Homo sapiens: one gene and its partners. The protein of the gene in region 1 purifies or fractionates together with the protein of each later gene. This does not show direct contact. Each region holds a gene or a part of one and is shown on either strand. Other genes may lie near its edges.

What was found.
Region 2: the proteins of MOXD1 (region 1) and SPPL2B purify together in Homo sapiens (affinity purification with mass spectrometry; 2 studies listed by BioGRID and IntAct, with this or other methods). This does not show direct contact.
Region 3: the proteins of MOXD1 (region 1) and PON2 purify together in Homo sapiens (affinity purification with mass spectrometry; 2 studies listed by BioGRID and IntAct, with this or other methods). This does not show direct contact.

The regions. Positions count from the first base shown.
Region 1 is NC_000006.12:132,391,436-132,398,561, forward strand, and holds part of MOXD1 (DBH-like monooxygenase protein 1 precursor), read right to left. Parts: intron 825-7,126; exon of another isoform or gene 275-824; coding exon of another isoform or gene 272-274; intron 1-271.
Region 2 is NC_000019.10:2,352,661-2,355,698, reverse strand, and holds the end of SPPL2B (signal peptide peptidase-like 2B isoform 2 precursor), read right to left. Parts: intron 2,754-3,038; coding exon 2,490-2,753; 3' UTR 604-2,489; downstream 1-603. UniProt on the Homo sapiens protein: Intramembrane-cleaving aspartic protease (I-CLiP) that cleaves type II membrane signal peptides in the hydrophobic plane of the membrane. Functions in ITM2B and TNF processing.
Region 3 is NC_000007.14:95,410,910-95,418,035, forward strand, and holds part of PON2 (serum paraoxonase/arylesterase 2), read right to left. Parts: intron 5,389-7,126; coding exon 5,333-5,388; exon of another isoform or gene 5,280-5,332; coding exon of another isoform or gene 5,263-5,279; intron 1,569-5,262; coding exon 1,403-1,568; intron 871-1,402; coding exon 744-870; intron 1-743. UniProt on the Homo sapiens protein: Capable of hydrolyzing lactones and a number of aromatic carboxylic acid esters. Has antioxidant activity. Is not associated with high density lipoprotein.

The DNA of each region.
Region 1 (7,126 bases):
CAGCTTTTTTTTTCTACTGAAATTTAACAAGTTAAAAAGAAATAGATTTAGAAGAAGCTTCCTGGAGAAATGTTTTTCCTGTTTAAAAGTTCTTTACCAGTTTTTTTTAAGTTACAATAAAAAGCATTGTGAGTCATCCATACGCAGTTTTTTTGTATTACGTATGGATCAAATACTTCCAGAAACATGACAATGTGTAATGAATTCATCCCCTTCACCAGTAACTTTATTTTAATATGGCTCTATTACAAATGAAAAATCAATAAACCACCATTCAGTTTCTTTGAAGTAGACTCTTGCCTCTCCTTCCAACACTCTAGAAATATGCCATTGGTTGCCTAAAGCCTTGAACTTCGTTTGTCAATTCAGGTGCATTGTTTCCTTGGCTGTTAGGTCTGCCTGTTTCCTCAGGCTAATTATGAAATCATCTGCTCCGCCAGGAAGAAGCACACAGCTGAAGAGCATCATCCTGTGTTCCAGCATTACTGTGGAGCATGTGTCCTTATTACTAATGCACAAAGCACGACACTTGGAGAAGTCTCTTCGTTGCCTGGAAATTGGGGGGCATAATCTGAAGACTTATAAATATCTCTTAACAAAGCACCAGCTGAGCTGTGTCAGGGTTGCACACTCTCTTCATCTCTCCCTTACAGCCTTTCAATTTGCTTTCCAAACATTTCTTTGTCGCCGTTGGCTGGGGTGTGCTTAAAAGAAGCACATCGTTAACCACAAAGAATGCTCACTGTTTTCTGTGATTTCAAATCAGTTCCAAGCACTTCCTCAGCAAGTGGCCCGGCAGCAATTACCCTGCTGCTGAAGACACTTCGCATCACAGGCCTCAGTTTTTGAGACAAGCAAGCAAGGCTGTAAGAAATGATAACATATGTTTCAGCCTCCATTCACCAGCGATTTATACCCCCATAAGAAGGGTGAATCAATTTTCATGCAAATTCAACAGGCATATTCAACAACGTTGCTCTCTTCTCTAATTCACACAAACTCAGCATTCATCGGCTGCATTACTTGCCTCAAATGGGCACTCACAGTTGCTAAATGATTCGGGCGGGGGTGGAGTTGCTCTGTGTCAAAAAGGGGCAAAGAACAAGGAAAGGACATGAATCCATCAGGGCAATGAGAGCTGAACTGATTCACTGAGACAAAATAGTGAGGTTTTGAAAAGCCAGTGCAAAAGGAGATGGCTTCCCACCTCACCCTGACACTTCTGTGAAAGATGGTGTAGAAACTGACCTCGGCAGCATTCAAGGGAAATGTTTCCACAAGCATGAGCTGCTCCAGAACAATTTATCCAATAGATTATGTTGAGATAGGCTTCACTTTACAACCACATTTCTCTCTTTTCTTTCCCATCTTGATCATACCTGTTAATATCCTCTTTGCGGAAATATCTCCAGAAGGAGTCAAAAAGGTTAAAATGGGCAGCGCAAATTTCCATATGCCAGGTCCCTGGATATAGTTTTAAAGGGCCTGTGGCCTTAAGTAAAATCTGATTTCTTAACTCCACAGGTCTGCAGGTAAATGTCACACTGCCCTCTGGAGGTAGTCTCATTGGATCTAACCCTGAATTAATGATTGCCAGCTACTGAAAAATATATGGTTGCTGAATTTCAGAAGTCTTTTTCTAGGGTGGAGAGGGTATAGAATAGGAGGACAGTTGAAAAATTACCAACTGCTTCCAACTCCTTGTGAGTGGAGTGAGTGTGTGTGTGTGTGTGTCAGACAGAGAAGGGGGTGGGAAAAGGAAAGGAGAATAAGTAAAGATTGCCCCCAATTTCAGTAGTGCCAACAGAGAAAGGATGCATGTAGACAGGAAGCTTCAAGATGGCTGACTAAATGCATCTGGTACTCACCTTTTCCAGAGAGAGGAGCTAAAATAGCAATTAGATAATCACATTTTGAATAGATCATCTGAGAGAGAATACTGGAATTCAACAGAGAAGTGATGGGAAGCACTGAAAGCAAGGAAGGAGAGGGAAGCAAGGAAGCCAGCTTAGCTGGGATCAGCTGGGAGCCCGGAGAGGCTCCTTAATGTGAGGAAAGGGTAAGTGAGAGACACCAAGTGGTCCACATTCCTGCCACAGAATTCTACAATGCTAGCCATAGGAGAGCCCCTGGACTCTCATGGGCCCTGAGACTCACAGAGAACTGCCTAGAGATCACATAATGGCATTGTTCTAGACAGGGAGCTCATGCTGAGTCCTACAAACCCCCAAGTCCTAAGCAGCTGCAGCACTGTGCCATTATGAAAGCCCCGCCCCTGCCAGAATGTGTTCTGCCTGGGGGCCCAAGAGCCCCTGCACCTCCATATCCCTGGAGCCCAACTGACACTCATCACCCACAGACACCACTGTTGGGCTGAGGCAGGAGCCACTGGAAGTGACCTTGCCACCCCAACAAAAAGGCAGCTATACATTTTCATGTGCCATCTGCAGGACTGAGGACCAGCTTGCCCAGTTCATCATGGACATCACCAACACCAGCACTGACCACTTGGGTTCCAGAAAGTTGTCCCACCACAGCTACTGCCATTGCCACAGCATACCTGCTACCCAGAAGCATGATAACCTGCCCATCCTCCTGACCCACCATGATATTCCCAGCACCTGGAGAGGCTAATGCTCAACCCACTGCTGCCACCACTGAGGCCCAAAGACTGGCCCACCTAATGTCCTAGTTCCCAGCAAAACTTCACCACAACCTCCACTAATAATCACACCCTAAACCACTGAGGAAATCACAGACACCACTGACACTGTTTACAGCTGGAAAAATTACACAGAGACTATACAACCACCCACACCTAGAGTCAAGGCCAAAGTGCCCTACCCAGCCAACACCGTAGATAAATCTTCAAGAAATGTCATCCCCTATGAAAGCAAATTCAAAAAACTGGAGCAACTGTTATATCAGATGCACAAATGATCAATGTAAGGACACAAGAAGCATGAAAAAATAAGGAAATATGGTATCTCCAAAGGCACACCATAATTATCCAGCAACAGATTCTCATCAAAAAGAAATTTAAGAAATACCCCCCAAAAAAGAATTCAAAATATTGATTTTAAAGAAGCTCAGTAAGACACAACAGAATACTGAAAAATAATGCAAAGAAACCAGAAAAGCAATTCAGGAAATAAATGAGAAATTTACCAAAGAGATAGATGTCATAAAAAAAGAGACCAAACAGAAATTCTACAACTGAAGAATTCATTGAATTAAATAAAAAATACATTCTAAAGTTTCAACAACAGACTAGATGAAGCAAAAGAATCTCAGAACTTGAAGAGAGGTATTTTGAAATAACTCAGACAAAAATAAATTAAAAGGATAAAAAAAGAATGAGCAAAGCCTATATAACATCATAAAGTGACCAAGTATTTGAATTTAGGATCTGAGAAGGTGAAGAGAAAATGAAGGAGTTAGAAAACCTATTTAACAAAACAATAGATAAAAACTTCCCAAGTCTTGCAAAAAACTTTAGATATCCAGAAACAAGAGGCTCAAAGTTCTCCATATAGATACAATTCAAAAAGTTCTTCTGCTCAGCACATTATAGTCAAAATATCAGAGGTGAAAGACACAGAGAAAACTCAAAAAAGCAAGAGAAAAGCATCAAGTCACTTATAAAGGTACGTCTGTCAGACTAGACTAACAGCAGAAACCTTATAGACTAGGAAAGAATGGGCTGATATATTCAAGATGCTGAAAGGAAAAAAAACTGCCAACCAAGGATACCATACCCAGAAAAGTTATTCTTTATAAAATGAAAGAGAAATGAAGTCTTTCCCAGACAAGCAAAAGCTGAGGGAATTTATCACCACTAGACCAGATCTATAAGAAATGCCAAGGGAGTCCTACACCCAAAAGTGAAAGAACAATATCTAATATCATTAAAACACATGAAATATAAAAACTACTAGAGCAAACATACAAAGAAGGAAAAGACTAGAAGGTTACCACTACAGAAAAACCACAAAACCACAATAATAAAAAATAAGAGAGTAAGAAAGGAACAGAGGATACACAAAACAACTAGAAATCAGTTAATAAAATAAGAAGAATAAGCTCTCACATATCAATAATAACCCGGAATGTAAACAAATTAAAACTTTCACTTAAAAATACAGACTGGCTGAATGGGTTAAAAAACATGACCTGACTATACACTGCTTACCATACTCATCTCACCTGTAAAGCCATATACTAACTGAAATTAAAGGATGGGAAAAGAACTTCCATGCAAACAAAAATCAAAAGTGAGCATGAGTGGCTATGCTTATATCAGGTGAAACATACCTTAAGTATAAAACACTAAAAAGTGACAAAGAATGTCATTATGTAATAATAAAGGGATCAACTCAGCAAGAGCTGCATATATATTTAGAAATACAACAATTCTAAATACATATGCACTCAACACCAAAACACCCAGATCTATAAAGCAATTATTATTAGATCTAAAGGGAGTGATAGACTCCAACACAGTAATAGGAACGTTAATAGCCCACTCTCAGCATTAGACAGGTCATCTAAACAGAAAATTAACAAAGAAACATTGGATTTAAATTACACATTAGACTAAATGGACCTAACAGACATTTACAGAACATTTCATCCAACAGCTACAGAATATACATTCCTCTCATCAGCACATGAAACATTCCTTAGGACAGCCCATATGTGAGGACACAAAACAAGTCTCAACAAATTTTAAAAAATCGAAATCATATCAAGTATCTTCTCAGACCACAATGAAATAAAACTGGAAACCAATAACAAGAGGAACTTTGGAAACTGCACAAATACATGAAAATTAAACAACATACTCCTGAATGACCAATGGGTCAAGAAAGAAATTAAAGAGGAAAAAAAAATTCTGAAATAAAATGGAAACATAACATATCAAAACCTATAGGGTACAGTAAAAGCAGTGCTAACAGGAAAGTTTATAGCAACAAACACCTACATCAAAAAGTAGAAAGATTTCAAATAAATGATCTAATAATTCACCTAAAAAAAACTAGAAGAACAAGAAAAACCACACCCAAAATTAGTAGGAGAAAAGAAATAATAAAGATCAGAGCAACACTAAACAAAACAGAGACAAAAAAAATACAAAGGATCAATAAAAGGAAGTTAGTTTTTTGAAAAGATTAACAAACTTGATAAACAACTTGCTAGAATAACCAAGAAAAAAAGAGAATACCCACATAAAATCAAAAATGAAAAAATAGACAAGTATAACTGATATCAAAGAAATGCAACAGATTATCAGGGACTATTATGAACAACAATACACTCACAAACTAGAAAACCTAGAGGAAATAGATAAATTCCTTGACTCATACAACCTACCAAGACTGAATCAAGAAGAACTAAAAAACCTGAATAGACCAACAATCAGTAATGAGATTGAATCAGTAATAAAAAGTCTCCCCCAACATAGAAAGTCCAAGACTTGGGGCTTCACTGCTGAATTCCCATGTGACTGTCTTCTTACGTGATGTTCAGATAGAGTCTACATTCCCTCTTGAATCTAGTGGGCTTGTGACCACAGTGAAAGACTAAGTCATAAAAGGCTGTACAGTTGCCACCTGGCCTCTTGGTTCCCTCTTGGGACCTGCCACCATGCTGTGACAAAGTCAAGCAGCCACACAGAGAGGCTATGATCCTACCACAGCACCAGGCAAGGTCCCTGCCAAGAGCCAACATCAACTGCCAGCCATAACTTCAAGGAAACAAGGCTTCATATTCTTCCAACCACCCACTTTGGAGTTGTCCCCACCAAATTTCAGACTTGTGAGCAAAAGAAATTTGTCATTGCGTTAAGCTACTCTGTATGGAGATGGTTTGTTACCAAGAATAGACAGCCAGAACAATGGGCAAAGCCCCCAATACTGGACCCATTTCCTGGCATAGAATAGAACTGGCCTAAAAAGAAATGGGACTTGCTTCTCTGCCTTTCATGAATTTTCATTATTTGGGTTGATTCTTTATTAACATTAGACTTTCTCTCTGAGTCCCAGATTAGGCTGTCTATAAGATATATCCCAGCTGAAATTGTGTGTGAGTGTGTGTGAATGCACACTATATGATGGTTGAATTGTTGCCAGTATTTAGTAATTAGATTTTTATTTAAACACACACACACACACTCACAGAGAGAGAGAGAGAGAGAGAGACAGAAAGAAAGAAAGAAAGAAAGAAAGAAAGAAAGAAAGAAAGAAAGAAAGAAAGAAAGAAAGAAAAAGAAAGAGTAAAGAGAATCTAAATTTTGTCTTCTCTCAAAATAAAAGAACAAACAGAAGATCTGGCAATACTGAATTTACATTCCTTTTTAACAGTAATTCACTCACAAAACCCCCAGTTCCCTCAGTGCCATCTCCTCTCTGTTGCATTACATCCTGCCTGTTCCATTCAAGCTCTCATCACTCTTTTTTCTCATTTTTTAATTTATATAAATGTATGCGTTACAAGTGCAGATTCTTTACACACAGAGATTGCATAGTGGTGAAGTCAGGGCTTTTAGTGTATCCATAACCCAAATAACATACATTGTAACAAATAAGTAATTTCTATTCCTCCACACCTTCCCACTCCTTCACCCTTTTGAGTCTCTATTGTCTATCATTCCACACTCCACATCCTTGTGTACACATTATTTATCTCCCACTTATAAGTGAGAACATGCAGTATTTATCTTTCTGCATCTAGCTTGTTTCACTTAAGTTAATGGCCTCCAGTCACTCTTAGATTTATTTCCTGACATCTATAGACATTTGGACTTGTGACATCTATTAAGCCAATGATTCTCTACCTGATCGATAAAAATTTACACTTACATAGTTCTCAAGGAGTTAACACCCTTTTGAAAGAAGAGTTTAATATAATTAGGAAAATAAAAGTCAGAAAAATTTTTAAAAACTAAAGTTTTAGTTTAAAATTAAATTTAAAAGGATAAAATAAAATACATGCCAAAAAGCCACATGATGAGGTGACTAGGATAGCAACTTAGGTTATTATCATACACCCTGGTGTAATTGTCCAACTCTTAGTGGCTGCTGTGCATTTATTGATGCCCCGGGAGCCAATGTTTTTTGTGTCATTG
Region 2 (3,038 bases), on another chromosome or scaffold:
GTAATTCTCCCACCCCAGCCTCCTGAACAGCTGGGACTACAGGTGTGTGCCACCACACCCAGGTAATTTGTGTAGAAATGGGGTCTTGCTACGTTGCCCAGGCTGGTCTTAAACTCCCAGGCTCAAGCAATCCTCCCACCTCAGCCTCCCAAAGCACTGGGGTTACAGGCGTGAGCCACCATGCCCAGCCTGGGTCTCACTTTCTCTAACGTAGCGGAGAACTTTGTGAGACTAGAACAACACACACAGCAGCCCCTGATGCCTGGCAGATGCTCAGGACTCACTGGCCTCTCGGCCCGCACACAAACCCGCATCCATCACCCACGTGCCCACAGGCCCAGCGCCAGCCAGCAGCAGCTGGAAACCAAACCTTGTCCCAAAGCGGCTAAGACAGGTCTTTGCATTTTTAAAGAGAAAAAAATAATAATAAACTCTTTTGAGACGTGAGGATGCTATACAATTCCAATTTCAGGGTCTGGCGAGAAAATTACTTGAGGGATGGGCGTGGTGGCTCGTGCCTGTAATTGCAGCGCTTTGGGAGGCCGAGACAGGAGGATTGTCTGAGCTCAGCAGTTCGAGATCAGCCTCAGCAACACTGCAAGACCCCATCTCTATTTTAATTTTGTAAAAGGTATTTTGGCCCATTTTACACATGGTCTGTGATGCTTTCCAGCAACAGTGGCAGAGCTGAGAAGCGTGACAGGGACCACATGGCCCACAGAGCCCATGGGAGTGACGCTGGGCACCTCACAGCACTGGCCGGCCCTGCGGTGGCAATTCCAATCCGTCCTCTGCAGGACAGCCAGGCGGCCTGCCAGCTCTCAGTTCTGCTCACCGGGACCTGCACAGAGCAGATGCCCCAAGCCGTGCACTGCGGAGGCAGAGGCCGGGCCATATGTATCAAAAGCTGTGTTTAATGATCAGACGGAATGGCAGCAAGGCCACACGGACAGACGGAGCCAAGGACAGGACCGCCGCCTCTGAACCCCTCCCCACTGGTCAAACGTCCAACACCAAAAAAGAGACGTCCCCACCCCGTCCCCATGTACAAAATGGCTTCAGTGAAGGCGCCATTACTCCCTGGGAAGCTGGTATTTTTTGTAAGGGATCAGGGCTCACCCCTGCCACCCTCTGTCCGGAACAGACCCGTGAGAGCGCAGCGCTCAGCAGTCCCCGTGTGCAGCTGGGGACGACTGACTTGACAGAAACAGATTCTGGACTCGAGTCTGGAGGCCGCACTCAACAGGGCGGGTGGCGGGCGGGAGCTGGGGCCCAGGCACCACAGACAGCCAGGGTGCGGGCTCTGTCTCTGCGGCCACAGGGAGCGCTGCTTCGGAAGTGACCACGTGCAGCGAGGGGAGGATGCCGGGGCCTGGGGCCACGCCTCGGTCAGTTCCCGCACGGACGTCTCTGCCCTGGAGTCAGGAGGACCCCATCAGTGAGTAGACCATGCCAGTGGCAGATGTCCTCGTGGGTTCCAGAAGCTCCTAGCTGCTGGGTCCAGAGGGTTAAGAACCCAGGCACCAATGCCGCTGCCACAGGGAGAACCGAGGCCCAAGCCCCTCTCAGCAGAAAAGCAACACGGGGCCCACACGGGAAGCGAGGTTGGGTGCCGGGAGCTACCAGGACCTCCCACGACCCAGTCCCTCCCTCCCAGGGCTCCAGGGACCCCTGAGGGCCTGACCCAGCCTGCCTGGCGCCCACCCCTGCTTGTCAGAAGGGCAGTCTGAGAGACGTCCACCCCACCAGGTGGCACCAGCAGGACTTCTAGAAGTTGCGACCATTTATTAAAATGGGGAGGAGTGTGCAGGCATGGCCAGGCACCTCTGGCTGAGGGCAGGGCAGGGCCTTAGCCAGGGGAGCAGCTTGTCCACTTACTGCCAGCCTTGTTCACGCCCCAAAACCCCGCCCCACGGGCCTGTCTCAGCCAGCGTCAGGGGCCAGAGGCCGCCCCGGCCACTGGTCCGTGTCCTAGGCTTGGAGGCAGCTTCCAAACCTCCCAGGGGCTCCGATCTGCTCAAGAGGGAAAAGCGATGCCTTCTGGGAGACAGAAAGCTGCTCTTCCACCCGGAGAGCAGGATGCCGTGGGGAGGGAGGTCACCTGAAGGCCGAAGCAGCTGGTGAGCACCAAGTGTGGCCGCGGCCAGAGTCCACCCACGCCTGCTCACTCATGCAGACGACGCTTGAGGGTCTGCAGAGAGGCCGGGCAGGGCCTGCGAGGACGGACCCCGGTGGGGAGGATGGACCCGCAGAGAGCTTGTGGCAGCCGGGCGAGCTGGGAGCAGCAGGCGTGCAGCCGGGGCAGCTGGGCTGGGCGCGGGCACAGACCGCAGGGGTCTCGGCAAGGATGAGCACCATGTTGGGGCGGGTGGGGACGGCACAGGCCTCGGTCCCGGGGGACAGGCGTCTGTCTGTCTGTCTCCAGTGGGCGCCAGGCAGCCCCAACATCTTGGTGTGGCGGGCACGGCAGCGAGCGTCTCACCCCTCCCCTAGGCCGAGGCGCCAGGCTGGGTTACCGGGGACGGCTGGGCCTGGTCCCGGCCCTCGGATTCAGCTGGGCTCCCAGGCTCCCGCATGGGGGCTCCAGCCCCCATCTCCTCGGACGTGCGTGATTTTGGGGACTGCTCAGCAGGCCAGGGGGATGTGGCTGGTTCTTCGCTGGGCGGCTGCGGGGAGAGTGGCGTGGCAGAGTCTTTGGGAGGCTGCGGGCCGTCGGCTGGTGCTGGGGCCCACGGAGATGGAGGTAGGACTTTCTACAGGAGAAGGGAGGCAGAGGTGAGGCGGAGACAGGGACCCAGAGGAGGACCCTGGCAGGGGCCAGGACACCCAGCACCCGCAGGCCACGGGGGCAGGGTCAAAATGAGGCGCCATCCCCAGGGGCTCTGGACCCAAGGAGGGGGCCGGCTCCATAACCTACGGGCACCCAGGACCCTGTCCATCGGCACAGGTGCCGCGGGAGGGCCATCCGAGGCCAGCAGAGGCTGGGAGCTGTGCAAAGCCTCTCCAAAGAAAAGCCTGGACTACCGTCTCTCGCCCCT
Region 3 (7,126 bases), on another chromosome or scaffold:
TGGAAGGAATGATTGGAAGTTACATGCTTATGCCCTAGATAGGCATAGATAGGCCCTAGATAGGCAATATTTTTAATTTCATTAGAAATGAAATTTCATTAGAAATTAAAAATATTCATCAAGTTTAAACTAAAAGAAGCAGTAGGCTAATACACACTGAACTGGGGGTGGGGGTACACATGATTCTCTCTTAGCCACATTTTCAACCAGCTTTATGTTCTTGAAGTGTAATGACTCACTCTCAACTTGAGTGGCTCTAATTCTGTGGGATTACTAGCATGCAACCATCACTAACCCTATGAAAGCGATTGGTATAAAGTCCCATGCAAAGCATACAAACCCAATAAAAAACAGGCCATTCTTCCTTGGCAAGACACTCATCTGGGTGATGAGTCATCTAAGATGGAGGGTGACAGCAGGAAAAAATGTTAGGGTTTGCCTTCTACCCTCAAGATGGGCCTGAAGAGTATCACCCTGTAGTCGGGCACTTCATCATTTCTCAAAGGAGTCCGCATAGAACAGTGAATAGTATGAGTGACATCAACTTTCATATGCCATGCTTGCCCTGGTTTATAAGGAAACTATACACACACATTTATAAATAAGGAAATATAAGCTCTTTAGCTCTTACATATTAGCTAATATATACATTAGCGCTTATAAAAGATGACAGGACAACCCACCATAGGGATTGTTTGCAAATGCTGGGGATAAATTAGAGAAGGAACAAAATGAGGAAGTACCTTGGAAGAAGCTCATGTTTGACTGTTTTCAGATGCAACAGAGAATTTTCTGCTTCTTCAAATTTAAAAATTTCCACTGTATTCTTGAATTCTGGGTGGTTTACAACAAAGAGATAAACTGTGTCATCTAAAGAATTGAAAGAACAGAGTTAATTTACAAGACATAACTACGGGACCTCTGGGCAGGCACTGACATTTAAATACCACAGGCAAGGAAAGGTTGAATGTATAAGCTGTTAGACGACCTAACAGATCATTCTCTGTCTTTCCTATTGCTGTCCGTCTGGTGTTATTTCTGATCATTGGCTCCCTGACCTTTAAGAAAGTGTTTCCTACTCCATATACAGAATTCATGCATAATCTGTTTCTACTTTAATTCAAAAATACAGTTCTTTTTTAAATGTGATGATCGTAGGTATATGAAAAGATTATGAAATCTAAACATTCTTTCAGGTGTTACCTGTTAGGAATTTCAAAATGTAGCATAACTTACTGCCAGCTGAAGAGGCAAATGAACAAGTTCTTTGTAATGAAGAATACAGAAATCACTCATGAGTTAATTGTTCTTCTCTTCCTAGAAATATGATCCAAATCTATTTTTCACAGTCATTTGTGAACCATCACACGTTACTAAATGTTGGTAGCCCATTGGCTCTTACCGTTGTCTATGAAAGTGCTGATGCCATGTGGATTGAATGAGGCCAAATCAAACCCACGACTGATTCTTAATTCCCGTGCCCTTGGTTTTTCTTCTTTTAGATCCATCATTAGTATTCCTCCAGGCTTATCTGGTGCAAAGCTGTGGAGTCCTGGGAATTTTAGACCCTTTCCAAAACGGTGAAAAATGTTAAATACAAAAGCTTAAGTATTTTTATGGACTAACATGGGAACTGTACATGAAGGATAAATAGAGATTGTGGTTAAAGTAGTGGCATAAAGCCACAAAAACTCAAAAAACAGAGAAAAGATAACAGAAAAAATAATAACGGGGAGGTGGAATACTGAAAGCCTGAAAATAACTGAAAAGAAGATCAGGGATTTATTCTCTTCAGAGAGTAATCAGAAGGTTGGTGGACTAGGTGATTCCAGGGAGAGCTGAGGGTGGAGAAAAGTGACATCTACATACTGACTGTGGAAATTTGTTCACTGCTAGATCCCAGTGCCTGGAACAGTGCCTGGCATACAGTCCATCCTTCTCCCACTGATTCAAAATATCACCTTTATCATGTGCTAGATCTCTGACATTTACATATTGGTCTATTTAGGGACTCTCTGTTTTGTTATTTTAATGTCTCATGTCTATTCCTGTGCCAATATAACACTTTTTAAATTACTACAGCTTTAGGTCAGGCCTGGTGGCTCATGCCTATAATTCCAGCACTTTGGGAGGCTGACGTGGGAGGACTGCTTGAGGCCAGCAGTTTGAGACCAGCCTGGGCAACATAGCAAGACTCTGTCTCTACAAAAAAAAAAAAAAAAAAAAAAAAAAAAATTAGCTGAGTGTTATGGTGAGCACTTGTAGTCCTAGCTGCTCGGAAGGCTGAGGTGGAAGGACCTCTTGAGCGCAGGAGTTTAGGAGTTCAGGCTGCAGTGAGCTATGATTGCACTACTGCACATCAGCCTGGGCAATTGAGCCAGTCCCTGCTTCTCTAATGACAGTTTTGTCTTTTTCTTTTCTATCTCACATTTCTTTTTCTCGTTTTACTGAATTACTAAGAACTCTAGTAGATTACTGATGGTTGTGGTGTTGGGTATTTTCTTCCTGTTCTGAGCATTAATGCAAATGCAGCCAATGCTTCACCATCAAGAATGATGTTTGCTGTAGTTTTGTGGGAATTTTCCTTATCTTTCTAGTTTGCTTGGAACTTTAGGAATGAGTATTGAATTTTATTAAATGCTTTTTGGTACTCACTGAGATGATATAGGTCTTTTCTCTTTTAAATCAGTTAATAAATTACCTATCAGTCTATCTAAAATGGTGATTCATCATTACATTCTTAAGGTAAAGCCTTCTTGGTGATGTTAAATTTTATGTGAATGCACTACCTAATTCAGTTTACTAATACGATGCAGTCATATTTACACAAATTTAGGCACACAATAAAAAAGTCTTACTTTATGTATAAAATTGGACATAAGAGGAAATCTCTCCAATTAAAAAAGATTATCTACAATTGTATATTTTCATGGAGGGCAAGCCTGGTAAGTAGAACAAACTGGAATTATGCTATTGTTACATGGCAGTGCCACTTCAGTTAATCCCTATTCTTTATGAATGTCCCCAAAACAAAAGCATGATTTACATGCAAAGGAAGCACTATCAGATGGTGATAACTAGTCATGGTTATGTTCGCACTCCTTATTTATTTAAGTATTTTTTCTCTTTTTAAAAATTTATTTTTAATTATGATAAAATACATACAACATTCATCACTTTCACCATTTTTAAGTGTACAGTTCAGTGGTGTTAAGCACACTCACATTGTTTACATTTTTTATATTTTATTCTATGTCATCCAATTCTTCATGAAGTGTGACATTAGTTTTGAGGTGACCCTCAACCCATAACTGTAAAATAGGTTGGGTTAGATGAGCTAAAATGCTAGGAAGAAGAATGAACAACCTCCACAATGTAGGACCTCTTTATTTAGAAGAGAGTACACTCTAGGTTTTATTAGAGACAATGCCAAGTAAATGAAAAACAGCAGCAAACTGGGAATGTTTCTAAATTTTAAAAAAAGTCAAATGAGCAAAGGAGGGTAACAGAAAAAAAGCAGAAAAAGTTCTATTGATATGGCTATAAGATCTTTGTAACTATAACATGCCCCCAAGCTAAAATGGCTGTAGATTTATGTGTTTGGAGACCTCATCCCTCCTACTTCAGATTTATTACTATGGGGGCTGGAGAGAAATCTTGAAATAGGTGAATTCTAGATTATAAAAATCTCCAAGAACACATCCTTGCAAAACAACAACAAAAAACACAAATAAACAAATAAAAAAATCAATGCAACTGCCTTCTACTTTATTCAGAATGTTTGCATCTTTACTTATGAATATTTTAGACTAGTGGTCCCAGTGGTTTTTCCTAAGCCACACATGTGCAAGCATGTGCTCCTAAACAAACCCAGAGTCCTACTATAAATATCACTTTATTCATTCTGTGTAGGCAATTAAATAAAACATTCCTTTTAAAACCTTATTTTAAAAACTAAATACATATACTGGTGTTTCTGCTAAAGCCCACAGTATCTCTTTATTGCCTCAGTGGTAATAACCAGCTGCTCACTGTCTTTCACATAAAAACCATCAGGAACCTGAAGAGTGTTCTAATTCTCATTCTACTCCAACCTGAGTTCTCTCACCTTTCTCATAAGTCTAACAACTATTTTATTAGTGTGGTGACTCCCTTCTAAGTATCTCCCAGTATTTCACATCCCTCTTGAGTCTCAGAGCCTGAAAATAATGGATGTTGAGAGGAAATGGAATAATTACAGTCAGGTGTCAGAGTTGGTTACTTCTTCCTCCAGAAAAACTGGACCTATGAAGATGCCAAGAACTCCTATGTCTGCCCAAGCCAGGGAGGTAGGTGGTCAGAACCTCCTCATCTGTCCCCTTATCTGGATTTCCAATTAGAATGGACATTGTTACAAGCTAGTTTCAACAATATTCACAACAATATTCACAAGCCAATTGTTTTTAAAGTCTTTCTATTGTATACCCAGAAAGGATATTGTTTTTCAGCTTACAAGAATCAAGGCAAAATGAAGGGTGTAAATAAACTCAATGACTTTCCACTTATGATTGGCTATTCAGGGGAAAAAAGAAAGAAAGCAAAAGGGCAAGGTTGGTATAATATTTGAAAATAAATAATAATGGCAAGAATATTTGCTTCAAGTTGAATAGTAATAGAAAGATGAGTAGATGCTGTATTTAAAATAGTATAATGTTAGTATTGAGTATCCACAGTAAGACCTCAAATATCCCTCTTAATAGTGCACATTTAAAACACAGATTGCGCTGGGCGTGGTGGCTCACTCCCGTAATGCCAGCACTTTGGGAGGCTGAGGCAGGCGATCACCTGAGGTCAGGTGTTTGAGACCAGCCTGGCCAACACGGCGAAACCCCATCTCTACTAAAAATACAAAAATTAGCCGGGCATGGTGGCGGGCGCCTGTAATCCCAGCTACTCGGGAGGCTGAGGCAAAAGAATTGCTTGAACCCGGGAGGCGGAGGTTGCAGTAAGCTGAGATCATGCCACTGCACTCCAGCCGGGGCAACCAGAACAAGACTCCGTCTCAAAAAATAAAAAAAATTAAAAAAGAAAAAACAAAACAAAACACAGATTGCATTGGAATATTTTAGTGCAATGCAATGGGGAAATAAAGAACACTATCTCAATGGGCAAAGAGTCTTCATCTCTACATTTAGAAAAGCTGGAGGAAGTTTTCCAAGATCTTGTTTGACCTCTCTTTTCTTCAGAATGCATTTTGGAAAATGAATTTTAAAAGCAACTTACTGTTCTGCAGCCCTCATCAAATACCCTTGTATCTCCTCTGCTGAATTTGGGGAAGGAAGAAGACACTCACCACACTAAAAAAAGCCAGACCATTGGGAAGTATGTCAATATCTTCAGAGCCAGCTTCTGTAAGTTTAAGGAACAGATAAATGTCATGTTCAAGTTCTGTTATTTGTTACACAGAGCATAACTGGGACTCTGTTTACTTTATCAGAGTGACTGTATCTTTAGGGATGGTTCTGATGTTTTTTCCAAGGAACCATTCTTTTTAATAAATGTCAGTTTAAACCCCTTCCTGAAGTGAACTTCTGACTTTAAATGTTAGATATTTTATGTTTACTCAAATCAAAGTCAAGTTATCACCACATTTCCAGCTATAATACTGAAAAAGTTGACATCTGTACACTCTCATGATAAACATCCAGATGTCCGTATAAAAGTAATTGACATCAGGGGAATATTACTTTCTGAAGGAAGGGCTCATAGGCATTTAACCATGCAAATATCCTTGTCCTCTTCTTTGCTCATTCAATCTGAAGCAAACAGACATCTTTCTCATTAACAGAGGTAAAACACCTGGGATTATATATTCCTTCTTTTAAAAACAGTGCCTACTTGTGCTCATAAGCAAAGAAAGCTTTTCTATTTAATCTTTAAATTTAGGCTTTAAATTAGAGAAAAAAACTAGCAGAAGAAAATTAATGAAAAATACCATGCACCTAAGCCAGTTGAAGTTTCTAACTCCTGTCTCTGAGGCAGGCTACAATTACTATTGATTGTTTATTGACTGTCTGCAGTACACTCCACACAGCACAGCAAATAATTAGACATAAGACTTTCCCCAGCAGTCTCACTGTATAAATTCTACAGACAGATAATAGACCCAAACACAAGAAAAGAAGAATAAAAATGGCTTAGATTAAGCCAAACCATGACACATTCTTTGAGTCTACAAAATCCAATCTTCCTCTTTAAGACTTCTCCATAGGATTTCTTCAAGGTTATTTCTAGGTTGTCAAAACCAAACAGCATCTATCTATCCAGCCATTTTGGTCTTGCTTCATGAGTTTGCATTTAGCCAGTTGCCTCCAGTGTTGCTTGCTCCATCGTAGTGCAGAAAAACAAAACAAAATAAAAATGCCAAGAACTTCACATTGTAAAGATGACCCATCTGCCTGCTCCTCAGAAAGAAGATACACAGAAATAAGCTTAAGCATGGCATAGCGGAGGAGTTCTCAATCTGGGGTCTGTGGATCACTTTTGGGCTTCAAAGTATCTGTGAACCCTCGGAAATTCTATGCAATGCAAAATGTCTCATGTATGCACAGATGAGAACGTTTCTGTAAAAACGGTCCTTGATTTTCATCAGATTCAAAAAAGAGACTGTGATTCCCCCAAAAAGGTTAAGAATGACTAGACTCTAGTTCCACGGTGGTTGTCCACTGGTAATAAGTTAAGAATCAGGGGAACGCTACACCACATACACATGTATACACAGCACATACACATGTACACACAGACACACACACACACACACACACACACACACACACACCGAGAGAGAATTCTAGTCCAGGTTTTGCTTTTCAGTCCTATTTAGTAGAAGCTCAATTAATTAAAATTTGTTTTTCCTGAAAATTATTTTAGAAAATTTAATTTCCAAGTATACACGTGGAAAAAGAAGATATATAGAAAAAATTAACAATGCTTCTTTGATAGGATTATGAATGATTTTTATTTTTTTCTTTATACTTTGTTTAAAATTTTCTACAAAATTGTATATTTTTTAATAATTAAGGAAAGAGAAATCTTTTTTTAAAAAAATACATTTATTTCAACCATATTGTAACTTCTGTTTAACTCC